Linked DNA regions of Homo sapiens: region 2 is linked to region 1. Evidence: fine-mapped expression QTL. A gene starts in region 1. The other region holds a variant in brackets. All regions are shown on one strand. Distances are from middle to middle.

Region 1 (2,904 bases):
AGTCCAGTCCTCAGCTCTCTCCTTCCTGAGTCGAAACCCCAGCCCCCTCTTTCCTTAAGCCCCAGCTGACCTCTGCCCCCATCATCCACTCACGGTTTTTTACAGTGGGCAGCTGTAAGGACCCAGTTGCCACCTACAAGGACACCGCCACAGAGTAGTTGCTGGCCCTGGAACAAGGCCGCCTGCCAAGGCTGCGAATGGGGTTGGCACTCATGACCCCCCAGCACCTTGTCCTCCTGTGCCCTGGAGTGTCCTGCAGCAGGAGGGAGAGGGTTGGATCGCCACCCTCTGGGGCAGTGCGAGGGCTGGGAAGGCCACTGTGGGTTCAAATGGACACACGGCAAGTTCTCCGCATACAACTTAGTGAGGAGGTCCAGGCTTCCACACGCTGCCACACGGGGACACTCATTTCAGTCCATGTGTCATCATACAAGAGTCACACACCCAAGAATGCCCCCACATGCTTCCACATGAGTCTACAGGCCCCGAGTACTCCCAGGTGAATCTATGCCCCCAAGCAAGCAGCCCCCAAAGGCTGTAGCTATTCAGACAATTTACAGCATCACGGAACCTACTCCTACCTGCTGCTACCTGTTTCTTGCCTCTGTCCACCCTGAGGAAAGCCCACAGAGGCTCCTGCACCGTATCGCACTCTTCACATCCGTGCACACGCACCCACATAACCCCCGCGGCATTCCCACAGACTCCCCAGCGCCACTGCTGCCTTCAGATCCCTCCCCTCCGGAGGCCTCCGCAACCCTCCTCACCTGCCCAGGCTCCCCCCAGCAAGAGCAGGAACATCCACGTCTTGGCCGCACGAGGTCGGGGGCGTCCCATGGTGAGGTCTGGGAAATGGAGAGGGCGGGGCCGGTAAACAGGAAGGAGGAGCCTGAGCTCCCAGTTCTGGATTTGGGCACTGGGGAGGCAGCCGAGAGTATCTGGGGCTGTTCTGGGCTTCTCTGGAGGAAGGAGGAGGCTGGGGGACTGGATTCCTACATTCCAAGGGAGGGGGGAGTCCTCGATGTCTGGGTCTGAGGGGACAGGGAGCTGGGAGCTGGGACTCCTAAATTAGGGAGAGGAGGAAGCCGGGGTCCAGACTGCTGGATCTCGACAGAGAAGGGCATCTGAGGCTGGGGTCCTGGAATCTGGAGAAGGAGGGTCCGGGGCCTGATGTCTGTATCTGAGTACCTCTGCACCTCACCTTCCAGAATCCAGGGGCGGGGTCACCTACTGATTCGGACCCAGTGGAGGAGGCCCCAGTACTTCAGTTCTCTGCCTGGTACACGATTCTGGAGCCTTTTAACTGGGAATCTCCACCTCCTGCTCCTCCTCCTTCTCCTCCTGCACTAGAGCCTGGGGAGCTTCTGGGAACTGGAACACTGGGTGTGAGTGAGAAGGGGCGGAGGGGATTGAACGTGAAATCTTGAGGGAGGAGGGGCTGGAATCTCAGACTCCTGAGGCTAGGGAGAGGAGGGACTCGGTGCTGAGACTCTACGATCTGAAACATAAAGGGCTGGGGGCCAAGATTTTAGTTCTGAGAGGGGAGGAGGCTGGGGGCCTGGATTCCTGGGTCTGAGGGAGGAGAGGCTGGGGGCCTGGACTCCTAAATCTAAGGGAGGAGGGACTGGGACCTGGGATTTAGGTCTGACCGAGGAGGGGCTGGGGGCCCAGACTCCTGGGTCTGAGGGAGGAGGGGGCTGCTAGGGGCCAGGACTCCTGGGTCTGAGGGAGGAGGGGCTAGGGGCCTGGATTCCTGGGTGTGAGGGAGGAGAGAGCTGGGGGCTGAATTCTAAGTACTTTTAAAAGGAGAAGCTTGGAACCTGATCTTTTGTGGGAGGAGGGGGCTGCTGCCAGTAACCGGGAACCGAAGAAAGGCAGGTCTTCTAGGGTCAGAAACCAGAGGGTGGATCAGGCCCCGCCCGCTGTCCCCTGAGAGGTCCGGGATCTGGGAGGGCAGGTTTGGGAGGCACTGTGACCTGGTTTCCCCTTCCCCTGGAGGCGGCAAGACCAACCCAAGCAGAACCCAGGAGTCTTGCTGCAATAGGGCTGATGGACAGAGACTTTAGGCAAAACTTACTAGGGGTTTAAGGGGGAGTTGCAAGGCGGTACCGGTTCCCTCATCTGCCCTTCACCGCCCACCCGTTTGCTCTCCACTCATCTCACAGCTCAGGCAGAAAGAAGGTGAGGTTTCCCGCGTTTACTGAAAAATCATCCGTTGCATTGGCTCTAAAGGTATCCAGACCCTCCCTCAATTTCCCCCCAGGTCTCCGCCAGGATTCAAACCCAGCACACGCCCAGGACGGGGCCACAAGGGGCTGAGCTCTACACCGCCCGAGCTCCACGTGGGCGGAGCTACTGCGCCCCTGACATCACGAGGGGCGAGATCTCTGGTGAAGGAGGCGGGGCCACAAGGGGTGGAGTCCCGAGGGGAAGTCCCACTGGGCAAAGTTCCGAGGGGCGGAGCTATTTTGTGTAAGTGGTTCCTTGGGGCGGAGCCACAGGCTGTGCTGTTCCAAGAAGGAGGTGATGGCTGTCGGTGACGTCATAGAGACGGGCTCTGAAGGGCGTGTCCCTGCTCCGTTCCGAGGGGGCGCGACTGTGTCTTGCTTGACCTCGTGAGGGGGCGGAGCCTCAGGGGCGGAGTCTTAGTGTCCAGAGGGGAGTCAGGGCAGCTGGAGGTCCAGGGCGGGAACCATTGAGGCTGGGACCCTACGAGAACCCCCTACCCCGTGCCCTTCGGCCTCTCTTGGTCTTCCAAGGTGCCCCCGTGGCGCGCGGGCTCAGTTCTCCATGATTTCTTGGATCCAGTCAAGGTAGTGGCATACGCTGGTGTAGACTGCGGGGCGCCGGGGTCTGGAGCAGGGCTCAGCACCCCCAGACACCACGCCTGCCAAGGTTCCATTG
Region 2 (2,904 bases), 63 kb before region 1:
GTTACAAGGGTGTGTTCTGTTTTGTGAAACTTCACTGCCATTTATGATACTTCTGTGCATGTTTCTTTCTTTCTCCTTTCTTTCTTTCTTTCTTTCTTTCTTTCTTTCTTTCTTTCTTTCTTTCTTTCTTTCTTTTTTTGTTTCTTGAGACAGTCTCATTCTGTCATCTAGGCTGGAGTGCAATGGCGTGATCTTGGCTCACTGCAATCTCCACCTCCCAGGTTCAAGCGATTCTCTTGCCTCAGCCTCCCGAGTAGCTGGGATTACAGGTGCCCACCACCGAGCCCGGCTAATTTTTGTATTTTTAGTAGAGACAGGGTTTCGCCACATTGGCCATGCTGGTTTCGAACTCCTGACCTCAGGTAATCCACCCGCCTCGGCCTCCCAAAGTGCTGGGATTACAGGTGTGAGCCACCATGCCCGGCCCTGTGCATTATCTTTCAATAAAAGTTAATTTAAAATATTGCTGCAAGGGCATCTATGGGGCAGACATCATTGGTTGTTCCTCCCGTTCTTTGATGTCGGAATCCTGATTTCTCTCAAGGAGCAGCTTCTACATGCTTTAGGGGAGGTCCTCCACTCCATCGTGAAAGAATAATCCTGTTTGGTTCAAATCAACCATGTTAACCTCTCCACCCCACTCCCCACCCCACCCCACCAGTCTGTGACTGGTTTAGGAAAGGACATGTGACCCAATTCTGGCCAGTAAGAATAAGATAAAATTCTGCTGGGGTGGTTTCTGGAAAAGCATCATCCTTCTCAAAGACAGACCCACTACGGGTGTTGATCTTAAGGATGATGACCCCCCGCCGAGGAGAACCAAGCGAAACACAGCCTGACGCCCTGTGTCTGGAGCTGCCCTTACCTGGATTTCTTGATATGTGAAATTAAAACTTATTTACTATTGAAGCCAGCATGAATCTTCTCTTGTTCCTCAAAGCAGCTTAACCGGAAACATCATTTTGGAAAATGTGCTCAAGACTGCCCCTTAGCTAGGATTCTGCTCCTATCTAGATTTTTTTAAGATTAAGAAAAAAAAAATTGAGGCCAGATGGCTCACGCCTGTAATCCCAGCACTTTGGGAGGCTGAGGTAGGCAGATCACCTGAGGTCAGGAGTTCGAGACCAGTGTGGCCAACATAGCGAAACCCTGTCTCTACTAAAAATACAAAAATTAGCCAGGCATGGTGGCTCACACCTATAGTCCCAGCTACTCAGGAGGCTGAGGCATGGGGATTGCTTGAACTGGGGAGGTGGAAGTTGCAGTGAGCCGAGAATACGCTACTGCACTCCAGCCTGGGTGACAGAGTGAGACTCTGTCTAAAGAAAAACAAAAACAAAAAACAAACATTGAATTACAACTGTCACCCAGTACTATTTGCCCCTATTTTCACACCACACCACACACCCTGGCAGCCCAGTCTTTCTGGAATGTCCCCTAAAAAGT[C/T]GTGAGGACTTGTAAATGGCTAGGCACAAAGGGGAAGATAAAGGTGACAATTATTGGATCATTTTGATGTATGTGTCCTTCTCTCACACCTTTGACTGTTCATCAGGCAGACACTTCTTATCTCTTCTTCCTTGCTGGTAAGGACTGCACCCGTGACAGAGAAATGTCAGAAACTCACTTTCTCAGCTTCTCTTGAAGCTAGAGTGTCAGCATTGGGACCTTCTCCAATGAGTGGTCATTGAGACCCAAGAACAGATCCAGGGGTGTGGGGGGACTCTGGAAAAGACTTTCTTTCCTAATGAAGAGAGCTCTGCCAACAGAGTCTCTCCTTCCTGCCTTTTGTCATGGTGCGTGAGGATGTGATGTCTGGAGCTGTGGCAGCCATTTTACAGCCACGAGATTACAAGCCTAAAGGAGAAAGCTGACATATTTTCTTCTTCCTGCTAGAACATAAGCTTAAGGAAGGCAGGGGTTTGGTGTCTGTTTTATTAATCAGTCTATCCCAAGTGTCTATAATATTACTTGGCTCTCATAGGTGCTCATGAGTTGAATAAATATATGAATGAATGAATGCAGAGGGCAGTAGAGAAGAAAGATGGGTCCCTAATGATGTAATGTAGGAATCACCAAACCACAGTACTTCCCTCTTTTGGGGCTTCTTATTATGTGAAATAATACACGTCCTTATTGCTTAACCCACTTTGAGTTGGGTATTTTGTTACTGACAAAATTTTCTAGTGTAATTCCTTTTCTAGAGTGTTCAATTTCCAAAGTATTCCCTGGAGTGACTTTCTATAACCACCTGTGAGTATCTTGAGAAATCTTAGAGCTGGATTGGCACGTGGAGATCATTACGTTTCAATCCTCCCATTTTACAGGTAGAGAAACTGAGGTCCAGAAAAAGTACAAATGACCTTTACACAGGTCACTCAGAAAGTGCTGAAGACTAGAATGTCCATGTGTTGATGTGTTGTCCATTTCAATGACTACCACGCCCACAACCTTCTTAGGGGCCCTGCCCTGCCCACTGCTATGGATGAAGGGGTGGCTGGGGGATCCATGTTGCACTCTGTGGGCCCACCTTTCAGACTAGAGATAGAGTCTGCATCTGACCCTAGGACAGCCAACCAGATTTTTTCTCTAGGGGCTATGAACAAAGAAAACCCAGTAACTGGAGCCAGTTATGGGGGAGAGAAGAGATGCTTTGATAGGCAACAGGCAGTCAATGTAATGAGAAAACAGAGGTGGGATGAGAAGAAAGAGACCGTGAAAGACACATACCTAGGGGAGAAGGGATAGAGATCCCACAGGCAGCTGCTTCTGCCCTGACATTTTCCAATTTAAATTAATGGATATTCTTTTGATAACTGATATGGCCTGGCCCTGTGTCCCCACCCAAATCTCATCTTGGATTTTAATTTGAATCATAATCCCCACGTGTTGGGGGTGGGATCTCAT

What was found. PIP is the estimated chance that this variant, and not a neighbour inherited with it, causes the effect.
Region 2: its variant is the best candidate, but not a certain one, in a credible set for the expression of KLK8 in tibial nerve (GTEx, PIP 0.77).

Annotation. Positions count from the first base shown.
Region 1 is chr19:51,000,331-51,003,234 of GRCh38, forward strand. It overlaps KLK8 (kallikrein related peptidase 8), which reads right to left and starts at 1,274. Exons shown (of 6, transcript NM_007196.4): 1 at 1,202-1,274; 2 at 768-845; 3 at 94-253. The coding sequence starts at 837. KLK9 (kallikrein related peptidase 9) reads right to left here. Exons shown (of 5, transcript NM_012315.2): 5 at 2,178-2,904. The coding sequence ends at 2,781.
Region 2 is chr19:50,937,695-50,940,598 of GRCh38, forward strand. No RefSeq gene overlaps it. Among named protein-coding and RNA genes, the nearest start is that of PPIAP59, 12 kb to the left of the region's middle. RefSeq lists a silencer at 1,344-1,507. The variant C/T (reference allele first, on the strand shown) is at 1,447.